Regions from separate parts of the Homo sapiens genome. Here region 2 is linked to region 1. A link means that fine-mapping ties the variant in region 1 to the expression of a gene that starts in the linked region. Tissue or cell type: whole blood. Region 1 holds a variant in brackets; the other region holds the start of a gene. Each region is shown on its reference strand, or each on the opposite one. Region 1 overlaps GFRA1 (GDNF family receptor alpha 1). Region 2 holds the start of NEXN (nexilin F-actin binding protein).

Region 1 (8,000 bases):
TTGTGATGAAGGCATTAGGAGTCACTATTTTTAAAGTTAACTTCAGTTGCCATTCACAGAATAGTGAACAAATCATAACTATACAGCTAGATGCAGTTTTACAAAGTGAACACAGCTGTTGAAGCCCAGCCAATGGAGAAATAAAGCATGACCAGGATCCAGAAGCACCCTCCTAACTCCTTCTAGTCACTTTCCCCACAAAGGTAGCCACCATTCTGCCTTCTGTCAGCATGGATTAAGTTTGCCTGTTTGAACTTTATATAAATGGAATAATAAAATATATACTTTTTGAGACTGGCTTCTTTTGCCCAACATGAGTTCATAGGACTCAGTCATGATGTTGCATATAGCAATAATTTGTTAATTTTAATTGCTGTATGTTTTTCTATCGTATGACTACATTGCAGTTTATCCTTTCTACAGTTGGATATTTGGTCGTATCCAGTTTGGGGCTATAAATCAAGCAGCAATGAAAATTCTCATTTGTGTCTTTTGGTGAACGTATAGACACATTCCTGTTGAGTAAAATTGCCAGGTCGTAAGAGAATGCTTATATTCAGCTTTAGTACTGCCAGACAGTTTAGACTTCCGAAGTGGTCCTACCAATTGGCACTCCCACCAGCAGATTGTAAGAGTGATGGATGGACACACTCATGTTTGTTTTTGTCTCTTCATTTTAGCCATCTTGGTGGGTGTGTAGTGGTATCTCACTATGGTTTTATTTTACATTTCCCTGATGTAATGATGTTAAGCACATTTCTGCATGTTTCTTTGCCCATTTAAATGTTCTCTTTTTGAAATGCATGTTTGAGTGCTTTCCTTATTATTATTTCTTTTTATTGGGTTGCTTGTCTTTTTCTGATTGATTTATAGAGTGCTTATAAAATCTGGATATAAGTCCTTTGTCAGATAAATGTATTAAAAATGTCTCCTCCTATGTGGTAGCTTGCCTTTCACTTTTCAAATGGTATCATTTGATGAACAGAAGTTTACTTAATGCAGTCCAATTTATCAGTTTTCCCTTATGCTAGGCATTCTTTGCATTTTATTGAAGAAATCTTTGCTTACTCCAAGTCATTAATATAGTTTCTCATTTCTTATAGTTTCTCATTTCTTAGAAGCTATATTGTTTATGTCCACACTTGGTCAAGCCACTACTTTTTAAAGGATTCTCAAATAAATGGAAGCTAGCCAAAAAATAATGTTTTAAGGCAGTGGTGGTTTAATTTCTAAACCAGCAGACAGCACTCAACCTGTCAGGAACTCTGGGGTCATTTAAGTGGGATGTAGTTGACAAAGCCTGTTGCTCTGCAAAGGCTTGACCCTGACCAGGTAACCATGGGAGATTGATCACTTTTCACATGTATCCTAGTCCTCACGTGCACAAACCTACTCTTGCTCTAGAAATTCCAGAAAGATGTATAAAGGGAGGAAGGATGGTGAAATGGTAACCCTGGGTGCTCTGGGAAATGCTTCATTCTTTGTTTATCAGTCAGAGTGTAGCTCATTCTGTCTCTGCAACATTTGAGAACCTTCGTGTCCAACCTCTAAACCCAGTCTCCTGGCTCTAGAACTTCATAGATGACTGGCTTTGTAGTGTTAAACAAATCCCTTAACTACCTCAGCCTATTTCTTGATCTGTAAAATTGGGACAATAAGGAGGCCCCCTCGGAGTTTTTATTTGTTGGATGGATGAATGGATGGATGGATAGATGGATGCATGGATGGATGGATGGTTCGTTGCTCTAACCATTAAATAAGATCAGGTTTATAACACACTTAGTCCAGCTCTGACACACAGTTCAGTGCTCAATAAAAGCACTTGTCATCTACTGTCTTCCTAATAAACAGTAATTACTTGCTGAATACTAAAATGTCATCAGCTTAGCAAATCTAATGTAGCAGATACTAAAAGAAACCCAAATTCTTTTAAGAAGTTCACAGCACATCTTTGCCTTGTGATCATGGTCACAAATGTGTGTGAGTTTGAAACATCATCAAAACAAAAGACACTTCCTTGGATATTTAAATCGGAGCATACCCAACTGCTGCTGAGGGCATGTGATATGGTTTGGATGTTTGTTCGTCTGAATCGCATGTTGAAATGTGATTTCCAATATTGGAGGTGGGGCCTGGTGGGAGGTGATTGGGTCAGGCGGGCAGATCCCTCGTGAATGGTTTAACACCATCGCATTGGTGATGAGTGAGTTGTCACTCAGTACACATGAAATCTGGTTGCTTAAGATTCTGGTCCCTGCCCTCTGCTGGGCCTCTTGCCCCTACTCCCACCATGTGACACCACCTGCTCCCCTTTGCCTTCCACCATGACTGTAAGCTTCCTGAGCCCAGCCTCAGGTACTTCTTTATAGCAACACAAGAACAGATGGATACAGTGTGCATGTGCTTTCTGGTGAACGTTTCTAAAAGGTTGTGAAGACGGTGATGTGTGATTCCACAGCGTGGGGTACTGGCTTATTGCAATACCCTCCAAACTGGTGCTCCTGCTTCCTCTCTGGTCCATCTTACATCATCATGCCCATCCATTAAAATTATCTCTTTAAAACATGAATCGAATCGTGATTTCCCATTGCACTTAGAATCATATCCAAACTCCTTTCCACACAGATGAATCAGTGTCTAATCTTGCCCCATCAGCCTTTCCCACCTGGTTTCCTACCACTGTCCACTCACACGCTATGCTCCAGACACAGCAGTCTCCTTAATCATTTCTTCAAATCACCAAGCTTTTCCCTGCCCTAGGGCTTGCCTCAACTCACTCCACCTCTCAAGTCACCTCTCAGGGAGCTCTTCCCTGATTACTCTCCCTAAAGTGGAGTAGAAGAGTCAACTCCTCATTTATCATATTATTTCCTCCATAAAATGAATCTTGTTCATTTATTTGCTTGTTTGCCTGGCTTCTCTCTTCCACTAGTATCTAAACTGTATGCCTTATTTCAGGAACACAGTCGATCCTCAATAAACAAAGAAATGAATGGCCATTGGCTATCCTTAAGGCCAATGGTCTGCCAGGTCTTCACTGTGTGGTGCGTATCCTCCTGCTTCCTCCCCTTGGTAACCATCAGTTCCTGGTGCCCCGTTCTATGTCATTTGCAAATTCCATAGGGGCTCTCCCTCTTCCCTCTATTTTCCCATTGGAGCTTACAGCCCCTCAACTCCCCAGCAGATCTATGTTTTCATTCAAGTCTCTCCTTAAATTCCATTTTATCCAATGACTAAAGTTACTTCTCTAGTCTCTAGTTAATGATCATTGGCTACATCCCCCCAAGAGAAGAGTCAGTGGTGGTGATGTAGTGGGGTGCCCCTTCCCCATTTGGCCTTCTAACAGGTGTGGGGGTT[A/C]CTGACATCTCTGCCAGGGGTTTCCTCATGTCACCAATTCAGTAACATAAACTGCCAGAGTGTCCCCTTGGAATGTTTCTTAGTCACTGGTTTCTTGATTGTGGCTAACAGAGGCCAACCCAACTTGCTTCATTCACAGAGAGGAGTAAGAACCTAGGCATGTCTCTGGAAACCTAGGAGCAGAAAGCATGCCTGGAGCTTGTACAGATGCTTGCCTTGATATCTGTTCCAACAGTAAGCAGTCCACAGAGAGTAGCAGTACCAGGTTTCTGGGAGAAAAGTATTCCATTGATCCAGGTGGTGAGCCCAGTTTAGTCAGATGTGGCTCATGGGAAGGACTCCCAGGGGATGTTCTTTAACCCTTTTTCCCGTTTAGAAAAAAAAAAAAGTGCAGCTCAATGCCAGTGCTCATTTAATCCTACATAAACATGCTCTTTGAGGCTGAAGCAAATCTGACTGATTTTCGATGCGAAAATAAAATATAAAAACTGTTCCTGGAGTTATTTCTAAACAGAACTAACATCTGAATCATCTGAATCGTCTATTTCAGAAAAAAATCAGATTCATCAAATGAATTTTTGGCCAACAACTGTTCGGGAACAATGTTAACATCACGTGTAGGGATGCTACATTTTCTAGGATTTGGCATTTTTCAGCAATTGAGAATTACTATATTTTGTAAGTGGAAATTCCACTACTAAAAACAGAATGCTATAAATAAAACGATGTTTTGTTTCCAAAGTCAATATACTAGAGTGATGCAAAAATAATAATAAAAGCAAGATATTTCATGGCAAAGTTATCTCAGGGTAAACGCTGCAGCCACAAGTGCCACTGGTGAATATTCTTGGGGCAGACAGGAAAACAGTTACATGGGAAACCGTTCTTAGAAAGGCATGGGCTGTTCAAACACCCAGAGGGGCATGTCCTATGAGACCCCTCAGAAGCATTTCCATGACTCCCACCTAAGAGATCACATATTGACCGGGAACTGCAGCAGGAAAGGCTGACCAGCCTGATCTGGGAATGTTCCTGATGGAAATGAAGTAGGGCCAGAGTTTTTTTTTAAGGAAGAGCAATGTGACAGCAAGGACATTAGTTAGAGGAAGCTCGGTTATCAAAGTGGAAGGAGGAGGCACCATCTGGACTCCAAGGACCACTATTGGGATGGCTTGGAGGGTGGTGGTAGTGGGAGAGGAGGAGTAACTAGGCCTTCAGGAATGCAGCAGACCCAGAGGTTAGTGCTGGTGTTCATCTGCCTGAATTCAAACTGCAGCCCTACCACTTAGCCTTTCTGGGCCTCCACTTCCTTGCTTTGAAAATGGAGGAACAGTGTCGAAAGAAGAATCCATGAAGAGTGGTGAGTTGGTACTATGTTGGACATATAGTAAGCCATCAGCAAATATTAATAATTAAGCTCTAGAAGGATATAACTGCATCTGCCTTCCAGGGATCCTTTGCGGAGTGCTTGGAACATACTAAGAAGGAGCGTTTCTGCATGAGTCTCTCCCATCCCTTGGTACCCTGATTTCAAGCTTTAAAATAATAGTGGTCTTGTTTTTAATCATAATGGTTTGATAATAGGAAGCCACACTCATATCCTACCCAGCCTGAGGAATTAAGGGACTGGTACTTGTTTTTATATAACTAAAATGTACATAGGAGGGAAAGTCCTACATCAATTCCTTCATGGATGTCCTCAATTAAATCATTGGAATCTGTATCATTAAGATAGACTGAGTCCATTAGGTAGACAGGCAGGTGAAATCTACCTGAACTTATTCAAAATGCTTGGAAATTGTTCATCAGTAATGATGTATCAACGAGAGAATACGTTTTATATTTCTAAAATTATAGGTGTCTTCCTACAGGGGGGAATGTATCTTCTTCCTCCAGTGTGTAGTGAGCAGTTTTCGTGAACACAGCTTAACACCCCTTCAGCTATGTGTTCCCTTTGATCCCTAGCTTATTAAAAAATGCAAATCCAAATTGTATCTTATTAATGTGAGCTTTTGTGTTAAAGCTGTGGGGGGCTAAAAATCCCTGTTTCTCTAACATGTTTGGATTTTTAATGTGCAAAGAGCTTGATTTTCTGCAGGCCATATTTTCTAATCAACTGTTATGAAGGATTTTTTATTGTGCTGCTATTTCTTGCTTTCTTGGAATTCAAGGAGATAAAGAGTAATGACTTCATTGTTATACCCTAAGTATTCTCGAGCATGTTGAGATCCTCAATAATTGGCTATAACATCTCCTGTTTTCCAGGAGCATCCTGGAAGCATATTTTAAAGATGTGTCTAATGTTGGAGGTAGTTGATCCAGAGAACTTACTGCTCATTGCCAACAGGCTTGTGGGGCATATGGGAGGTGACAGTGTCCAGCCAGTCCCTTTTCTGAATGTGTACAACAGTCCTTAGACCCAGTGTGCTCTTGTTATTAAAACAATTTCTTTTCTTTAAAAAATAAGGTGCTTGAAATTTAATTTGAATCAAGTTAAAAATTGATCCCATTAGAATACAGCTGCATTTTTCTCACTTGTCCCATTTTTAGTTCAGCCAGCTCTTCATTCTCTCATCCTTCTTCTCTTTTCTTCGTGCCCTGGAATAAGCTTCTTCTTGTATTTAATGATTATTCTTCTTAAGATCAAAGCCAATTACTTCAAAAAAGCCATCACATGGAAATGATCATTTTATATTTATGAGGCTGTCCATATGTACCCCCTAGTAAAGCTCATTCTGGAACAATCTTTTGAGCGTGGGAGTCCTGGCAGGGTGGAAGAAGCAAGTGACTGGTGAATGATAAAACTAACAACAGCCAAGACTATTGGCGTCTGCTATGTGCTAGGCATATATTATCTCATTTAATCATTAAAACAACCCCTGAGGTTTGTACTGTTATTATCATATCCCCACTTCACAGATGAGGAAATGGAGGCACAGAGGTGAATGACTTGCTCACATTTGCATGATCACAGGGGTCAGAAGTGGGGTACAGCCCTGGGAGTCCTGTTGAGAGTCTTCACCCTCAATCACTGCACACCACACATGCTTCCAGCTATGGGAAGAAGTTCTGGGTTCTTCTCCTGACTCTGCTATTAGCTAGCTAACTGCTGTGCCTCACCTTTAAATTAGAATATTGGACTAGATTCTCTCTGAGGTCACATTTGGCCCTGAAGTTTTTAATTCTTAGTAACTATTTTAAAGTGTTGTAAGGTGAAACCGGAAGACAAAAGGCAAAATTCTCAACAGTCCCTACCCCCCACCCCACACACATGCACACACACCCATGCATGCACACACGCATGCACACACACACATGCACACACGCATGCACACATGCATGCACACACGCACATGCACACATGCATGCGCGCACACACGTTCTTTGCCTTCACACTAGATAAAACCACAGTAAAAAGAATCTCAACTATCACATCCTACTGTACTTCATTTTAGGCAGAAAATGTTACAACTTGTATTCCAAAAAAAAGCCACCTGCGGCTTTCTGACACCTCCACTGGGGTCCCCCGGAAGCGGATATCTGGGGGAGGAGCGTGCGTGAGGTTTGAGTGAGAATAGCGGAGGGTCTATTTTTAACCTGAGACCTTTTGCAGAGTCGCTGCCTCTTCTGTTGTCTCCAGTTCTAGGAAAGGAGCTTTCACCTCCGTTCTCATTCAGAGATGGCTCTGTGGTTCATAAAGGAAATTTTCTCTTGGTTGCTGTTGAAGTGTTCTACAAAAAGAAGTTTGATGTGCTCTGTGTGAGGATGGCAGGTGGCAGCTTTCTGTGTCATTCTTTGACATGTGCCAGCTGACGTGAAGTGACTTGTGGTGACAGAGTCACACTAGGCGCTAGCACTTTCTTTTTTCTTGATAAAACAGGTAGCCCTTTCTGTGGGGAGTCAAGAGCTGGGGCATAAGCTAGTGTCTTCCAGGAAAAAAAAAGGACTCATCACCATGCGTGTTTTTAGATGAGATGGTGCAGTGTGAACCACCAGCTCCAACCAATTGTGCAGATGCGCTTGACCTTTGGTGACTGACAGCTGCCACAGGATCTGTCAGGCTGCCCCTCCTACTACTCCCCTCCCCCTAGGGCCAAAGGGCTCTCTCAAAGCTATTTCTGCAGAACTCCCATTAGCTGTTCCCCAGGAGATTTCGGGACACAAGCGCACTCAGCGTGTTCTCTGTTTCTGTCTCTGTTTCTATCTCTTTTTCTATCTCTACCTCTTAATGGAACATTTCAAATATGCAAGCAAATGTAAACAACAATAATAGAAATGTATGTACAAGCCCACCTTTATCAAATTGTTAACATTTTGACATATTTGCATCTGATCTCTCTCTCTCTCTCACACACACACACACACACAAATAAATAAATAAATTCACTACAGATCCTTTTTCATCCCATGATCCCCAGGGGTGTATTTCCTGTGAAGCTAATGAAGTTTAAGATTGTGGCACCTCCCTTCCACAAGCCCTAGGAGAGGCCCTTGTAGTGCATTTACATGAATATATGTTTTTGTAAAAATTTGTAAAATTTGCAAAAGTGAGAGATTTAACTGCAATTGGTGAAGATCACTGTCGCTTTTCACTCTGAGCTTTCTTCCCTCCACGTTCCCTTCTGTCCAGCAGGATTGGACAG
Region 2 (8,000 bases), not on the chromosome of region 1:
TCTTTTTTTTTTTTGACACAGAGCCTCACTCTGTTGCTTAGGCTGGAGTGCAGTGGTACAAGCACGGTGCACTGCAGCCTCAGCCTCCTGAGCTCAAGCAATCCTCCTGCCTCGGCCTCCCAGGTAGTTGGGACTACAGGCATGCACCACCACATCTGGCTAATTTTTAAATTTTTTGTAGAGATGGGGGTGGGTCTCACTATGTTGCCAGGCCTGGTCCTGAACTCCTGGGCTCAAGGGATCCTCTCGCCTCAGCCTCCCAAAGTGCTTGGATTACAGGCATGAGCCACCACACCCAGCCCCAAAAGTGTCTTTTTTGTTTTTGATTTTTTTTTTTTTTTTTTTTTTTACTTTTTTTCCACACTTGGTAATCAGGAAGTAAAAGGTGTCTTTTTGACTGTCGACTTTTTGACTGCCATAGCCTTAGTCTAAATGAATAGACAACACTGACAAAATGGAAAGGGTCAAAGGGGAGGCCTATTTTGGCCAGAAAGAGTGAAGGGGAAGAAAAGACAGGGAAGAGGCCCAGGATGGACGGTGAGAAGTGAATTTCACCAACCTTGAAACCTCATATAGGGAGCCCCAATCTGCTTGTCTTCTAATCTAAGAGTAAAAAGGAAGAGATGTCAAGAAGGAAATAAAGGAGGAAGAAAAAGAATCACCTGTTGAGCACTTACTGGATGGCAGACACTGCATGGGATGCTTTCACATGTTGTTTTATTGAGATATGTCAATGCAAAAAGAAAGAGTTCTATGCATGGGAAAAAGACTTAAAGGAAATACATCAAAATCCTAACAGTAAGAGTGTCAGATTACAAGAGCCCCTTTTTCCATTCTCCATAATTTTTAACCATAAATATAACATGGTGTATTAACATTATAATACAAATTAAACTAAAATTTAAGGTGGATTTCTGGGTACAAATCCACCCACCCTGGAGTATAGAAAGTAAACTACTATAAATTAAGCCAAACTATACACTGAATATTTAAATAATAAAGGAAAATGTAGCCATTTCAAATGTATATAATATGTAACTATGCAATTATAAACCCAGAAAGAGAACATGAAAGAAACTACACAGGTGATATGGACCGCAGATTGATTAAATAAGAACAGAAATATGTGAAATTGTTAAGAATGTTATAAATCATTTTCTCTCCAAATTATAAACTACCAAGATGTTCTGTGTGTGTGTGGCCTACATAACTATAAAATAACAGTCCTCTCTTCTATAAAAACGTTTAGACTTTTACCTGTCTGTTACATACTTTTCCACATTCACTGCATTATTTTCTTTCTTTTAGGTGTGCACAACTCTCATATTTAAATAATCCCCCTTTTTTTTGTCTTTTAGGGTATTTCAAAGATAACAGGTATTTTTTTTAATAAATGAAGTATGTCATTATAGGCCGCTCAGATTCTAAGCAATCTGAATCCCCAATTAATGTCTTCCAAATATGCATATTTAGTTTTTATTCTGCTCAAAAATGAAACCCTAACCTAAATACTTCAAGTGAAATTTCAGGGGAAAAAGACTGTTCAAAAACCTAGATAATGCATTCCTTTGTTGATGCTAAATATAGTCATCTCAAGATGACATACATTTTGACAATGATCAGCCTTACATGTCAAATTTTCAAAAATAGCACAAATTCCATTTTAAGGTGAGCAGGAACAATTGCTATTCATTACATTTCAATTGAAAATGGATTTTAAAATATGAATCTTTTATTAAAACTGGATTACATTGTAACTATGATGAGGAAAACTGGATTTAAAATAATTTTGTTGTGGTTTTAGCTTAGAATTCTTTAAGGGAATTGCAGATAAACTACATAATTGCATGCATTTTTCTTTAAATTGTTCCTCAGAAGCATTAGTCAAAATATAAAATATCTGCAAAAATACGGTGTTAATTGTAAGGAAGAAGAAACTTAAACAGCTACATTGGTTAATCAAAGTTTACTTATACAAATTATACCTCCCCCCAAAAAACCTTTCTCTCATTTGATTAATTATGCATTTTTTCTTAACAATACCCCAAACTCAAAAGAATTTGAGACAAAGTTTTCTAACTGCAGCAGTTTAACCTGTAAAGGATAATGTTTAGCGGGGGAAATTATGTGGTCCACTCAATAACGTGTGACTAAGATATAAATAACGTGTGACTAAGATATGAACTTAAGTATAAATACTTAAGTTTATTTAATCACATTACCTAAGACATAGTTATGTTGTGACTCGAAGGCCAATGGGCCGCTGCTACATGAATTCATTAACAAAATTTAACGATGAATGATATTCCCGTTGTTTTGGTCAGGGAACTAATTTCTTTATTATGGCTTCTTTTCTCTACCTGTGTCTTCACCAAGGACATTTTGTTAGGACATATCCTTATGCTATTTTTACCTTGTTATCTCTCTGCCAACTTGGTTCACGTTGTGCTTTAATAACTATAAAATGAGCATCTCTAAGTCACTGCAGTAACCAACTATAACCTCTCAACTTCGTCATTTTCTTTATAAATGCCAATGCTAATGCATTTGTAGAACGTTTCACAATTTACAAACAGCTGGAATGGTTTGGCGTTTTCAAAAGCATATAGGCAAAGGGAGTTCTCAAGAGGTGACTACATTCTTCACTCACTTAAACTACGTAAACTTCGTAAACTTCCAGCCCTAGTTGCTCAACCCCCAGCATCCCACCTCGGGCAGAATCACGAAAAAAAAAAAAAAAAGGGTTGGAGACAGGAGTGGGGGGATATGCGGGGGTGTGGGGGGGGAGTAATAGGCTGTTAAATCATATTTCTCCCCATCTTCCACAGAGACCGATCAGAAAGGATTTCTTAACTGGCACTGCTGGCAGAGACGGAGACCGCGGCTGGGGCAAGTGGTGGGGGACGGCACTGAACTTCCCTAAGGACCCCAAGGGTTCAGCCGAGGGATCGGCACCCACTCCGCTCACAGAGGGCTCCCTCCCTACAGTAGGGAACGCACCCGAAACTCAGCCGACAAGGCGCAGGGGAGCAGGGCAAAGACATTGCAACCAGAAGCCCAAGGCCGGCCGACACTTTCAGACCCTGGGGCAGCCCCTGGTAGGCACCCCGCCGAGCCCGCAGGATGCGGCTCCAAGGCAGGGTTCGCCCGGGCCGGGGCCAGCGCGGACCACAGCTGTATGGCGCCCGGCGCCCTCCGGAGCTGCAGCGGAGCACGGCCAGAAGCCGCAGACCCCGAGCGCCTCTCTGCAGCCGCCGTTCCCGCCCCCGCCCCCACCAGGGGACCCGACACCTCCGTCTCCACTCCCCCCAGCCCACGTTCCCCCAACTCTTCTCACCCTGCAGGAGCCGGTGACCGGCGAAGGTACTTCTTTCCGCGTGGAGGGACTGTGCGCGTCCCGCCTGGCTGTGGGTAGGGGTCTGGGAGCTCTGGCCGCTAACACTTCTGCTCCAGCCGCTGGGAGTCCTCTGGCTGCCGCTGCCGCCGCCGCCGCCGCCGTCTCCAGCAGCAAGTTTCCATAAAAGTCCTGGTGTGCAGCCTGTTCCCGCATTCCAGGCGGGCCCAGCGCCGGCTGCAGCTGTTCCAAAACACAAGGCCAGTTCCCCCAACCCCCCACCTCCGCCGTTATCACCCGGAGTGGGGGTGGAGAGTTGAGGAGAAAAGCAGGGGAGGGGGACCGTGGCTGCCAACTTTCCGCCAGAATTTGTCTGTCTCCCGGCCCTAGGTGCGCGAGCTGACCCCCTAACTTTGGGCCTGCCTCCACCTCCAGCCAGGCCTGGGGAAGGAAGGCTGCCTCCGCCATGGGAAAGGAATGAGGCTGAAATGGGCTTCATTACCGGGCTGAAGCTGGCTCCCCCTACCCGCAACCAGTTTGCTCTGGGGCCCACTTCTCTCAGCTACTCTACCCGTCCTAGTTTCCAGTCAAGAAGCCAAGCCACTACATATCTTCTACTACCCTAAGCATTGACCTTTGGCCAAGTTTTCCTTTATTACAAAGAGCGTGGGGCAGCAATCCGGGAACACTTCATCTGTCTATTGCTCCCCTGTTCTTAGCTCCAGTCTTTAACTCTAAAAGGAGAGTTAAAAAAGAAGAAGAAGAAGAAGAAGAAGAAGAAGAAGAAGAAGAAGAAGAAGAAGAAGAAGAAGAAGAAGAAGAAGAAGAAGAAGAAGAAGAAGAAGAAGAAAGTTGAAGGCAGAGGAGGAGGAGGAGAAGAAAAGAAGGAATATATTTATATAAGTACAAATATCTTTATATTCCACCTTTTTCTTAATTGAAGGCAAACCATATCTGGTCTTTCTAAAGCTTCATAAAGGCATCTTTGACTATTAGACACCCACAGACCTTTTTCAACTTGGACCGCCAGCCTGTCAAACCCATCAGACAATACCATATTAAAACCCGAAATGCACACTCGGAGTATTTTTGGTGGACGAGATCTTTAATTCTTCACTGCACTTGAAAAAAAAATCGAAATGACATCCAGATAAAGAATAAAGGTAACCACTTCCACCTTCAGGCCCTAAGCAGACAGCGGTGCTCAGGTTATATTTCAGGGATGTTGAAAAGGCCTTCTGGGCTGGGCGCGGTGGCTCATGCCTGTGATCCCCGCACTTTGGGAGGCCGAGGCGGGTGGATCACTTGAGGTCAGGAATTCAAGACCAGCCTGACCAACATGGCAAAAGGCCGTCTTTACTAAAAATACAAAAAATTAGCCTAGTGTGGAGGCACACACCTGTAATCTGAGTTACTCAGGAGGCTGAGGCAGGAGAATCACTTGAAGCCAGGAGGCGGAGGTTGCAGTGAGCAGAGATCATCCCACTGCACTCCAGTCTGGGTGACAAAATGAGACTCTGTCTCCAAAAAAAAAAAAAAAGGCCGGGCGCGGTGGCTCCTGCCTGTAATCCCAGCACTTTGGGAGGCCAAGGCGGGTGGATCACCTGAGGTCAGGAGTTTGCGACCAGCCTGGCCAACATGGTGAAACTCTATCTCTACTAAAAATGCAAAAAATTAGCCGGGCGTGGTGACGTGCGCCTGTGATCCCAGCTACCTGGGAGGCTGAGGTTGAAGAACCCACTTCGCTTGAACCCGGGAGGCTGAGGTTGCTGTGAGCTGAGATGGCGCCATTGCACTCCAGCGTGAGCAACAAGAGTGAAACTCCCTCTCTCTCTCTGTTTCTCTCTCTCTCACACCCGTACACACAAAAGGCCTTCTACTCAAATATAACTCTGTTCCCCAGTCCCATCCCCACAGTATTTACTCAGGATGGAAACTTTTCTAAGGAGGGTAAGCCATTCATTCCTCGATTACAGAAAAGTTCAAAATTGGTAATTAAAATTATTTAAATGTACCGAACTACGGATAGTGATAGGTGGTCTTGGTAGTCTTGCTTGTGCCCTTGCTCTCTTTGATGCCATCACCTTGGCCTTCTTCAGTTCATGAAACTTTCTATGGGCAGTCTGGCTGCAGGGCCTTTGTATAAGTTGTTCCCTGCATGAAATCCTTTCTCCCACTTTCCCCTTCACCTAACTTCAACATATCCTCCCGATCTCTTCTTAAATGCTGCTTCCTCGGAGAAGGCTTCCTTGCATCCCACCTTTCTCCCCACCTTGCACCTCACCTTTCATCCCACCTTTCTCTTCCCTATATATATATATTCCTATTTATTTGCTTATTTATTTATTTATTTATTTATTTATTTATTTATTTATTTGGAGATGTAGTCTCGCTCCGTCGCCCAGGCTGGAGTGCAGTGGCACGATCTCAGCTCACTGCAACCTCCGCTTCCCCAGTTCAATCGATTCTCCTGACTCAAAAGTAGCTGGGATTACAGGCGCGTGCCACCACACCTGGCTACTTTTTGTATTTTTAGTGGAGATGGGGTTTCACCATGTTGGCCAGGCTGGTCTTGAACTCCTGCCCTCAAGTGATCCACCCACCTCGGCCTCGCAAAGTGCTGGGATTACAGGTGTGAGCCACTGTGCCCTGCCCCTATACATATCAATTTATAATTACATATTTATTTCTGTGATTTAAAGAAGTGAGTTGGCTGAGCATGGTGTCTCACGCCTGTAATCCCAGCACTTTGGGAGGCTGAAGCGGGTGGATCACTTGAGGTCAGGAGTTCGAGACCAGCCTGGCCAACATGGCGAAATCCTGTCTCTACTAAAAATATAAAAATTAGCTGAGTGTGGTAGCGTGCACCTGTAGTCCCAGCTACTCGGGAGGCTGAGGCAGGAGAATTGCTTGAAACCAGGAGGTGGAGGTTGCAGTGAGCCGAGATCATGCCACTGCACTCCAGTCTGGGCGACAGAGTGAGACTCTGTCTCAAAAAATAATAAATAAATAAATAACTAGAAACTTAACAATTTTTTATTTTTATATCCACCCAATAGATTCACCAGATTAAACAAAGCTCTCCATTCTCTCTGTAGAACACTGATAGCTACTCACAGCATGCAAGGCCTGCTTATTTTCCCACCAATTCATCATTCATTCATTCAACAGATATTCAGTTCTATATGCTAAGGATACAGCAGTGATAAAGGAAAAATCCCTGCCATTATGGAACATACATTCTAGTGAAAGAAGGCAGACAATAAGCAAATAAGTGAACTATGTAGTATTTAGTGACATGTAATATGGCAATATGGATAATACCAGAGCAGGGAAGTAGAGAATGCTGGAGGCAGGCTGAGTAGATGTTGTAATTTTAGATAGAGTGGCTAAGGAAAGCCTCATATGAGTAAAAGCCTTGAGGAGAGTGAGGCAGTAGGCTATGTAAATATCTGGAGAAGCAAATATTTGGAGGAAGAGTGGTCCAGGGATAGATACAAAGGCCCAGAGAAGGATTCTATCTGACATGTTCTAGGAAGAACCAGGAGGCTTGTGCGAGTGAAGCTGAGTAGGTGAAGGGTGAGGTAATAGGAGGTGCAGTGGGGAGCAGGAGACAAGACTACGTAGGATTTTGTTTGTTTGAGAATAAGTCTCGCTCTGTCGCCCAGGCTGGAGTGCAGTAGCATAAACTCTGCTCACTGCAACCTCCGCCTCCTGGGTTCAAGCGATTCTCTTCCCTCAGACTCCCGAGTAGCTGGGATTACAGGCACCTGTCACCATGCCCGGCTAATTTCTGTATTTTTAGTAGAGATGGGGTTTCACCATATTGGCCAGGCTGGTCTCAAACTCCTGACCTCAGGTGATCCGTCTACCTCGGCCTCCTAAAGTGTTGGGATTACAGGCGTAAACCAACATGCCTGGCCTTTTTTTTTTTTTTTAGAGACCCAGGCTGGAGTGCAGTGGTGGAATCACAGCTCACCGCAGCCTCTAACTTCTGGGCTCAAGCGATCCTCCTGCCACAGCTTCTCTGAGTAGCTGGGACTACAGGCATGCAACAACACACCTGGCTAATTTTTTAGTTTTTGTAGAAATGGGGTCTTATTATGTTGCCTGGGTTGGTCTCAAACTCCTGGGCTTAAGCATCCTCCCACTTCGGCCTCCCAGAGAGTAGGGATAATAGGCATGAGCCATTGTGCCCAGCCTCTTTTTGTACAGCATTGTAAAGATTTTGGTTTTTACTCTAACATGGGTGGTCTCTGGTAGGTTTTGAACAACATAGTGACATGATCTGACATGTTTACTCTCTCTAGCTTAAGTGCTGCACATACACCAAATGAGGCAAGAGAAGAAGCAGGGAGATCAATTAATTAGGAGGCTTCCACAATAATCGGAATGAGGAATGGGGATTTGGGCCAAAGTGATAGTTGTGAAGGTAGTGAGAAATACCTGGCATATTTTTTTTTCCTTGTTGCCTTTTTAGGTAGAAATGGTAGGATTTTTTTTTTTTTTTTTTTTGTAACTGAATGTGAGGTGTGAGGAAAGGAGGTTTTGGGCCTTTGATCTGGAAGAATGGAGTTGTAATTTACTCAGATAGGGAAGGTTGTGGGAAGAGGAGGTTTAGGCAGGGGTGGTAAGGAGCTCAGTTTTGACATGCTAAGTTTGAGAT

Evidence for each region. PIP is the estimated chance that this variant, and not a neighbour inherited with it, causes the effect.
Region 2: NEXN starts here. The variant in region 1 is the best candidate, but not a certain one, in a credible set for the expression of NEXN in whole blood (TOPMed, PIP 0.80).

What each region holds. Positions count from the first base shown.
Region 1 is chr10:116,146,750-116,154,749 of GRCh38, reverse strand. All of the region lies in intron 5 of GFRA1 (GDNF family receptor alpha 1), which reads left to right. Among named protein-coding and RNA genes, the nearest start is that of SNORD158, 44 kb to the left of the region's middle. The variant A/C (reference allele first, on the strand shown) is at 3,358.
Region 2 is chr1:77,884,097-77,892,096 of GRCh38, reverse strand. NEXN (nexilin F-actin binding protein) reads right to left here and starts at 3,473. Exons shown (of 13, transcript NM_144573.4): 1 at 3,338-3,473. It overlaps NEXN-AS1 (NEXN antisense RNA 1), which reads left to right and starts at 2,558. Exons shown (of 3, transcript NR_103535.1): 1 at 2,558-2,629; 2 at 2,829-4,497. RefSeq lists a silencer at 3,089-3,228 and an enhancer at 3,469-3,528.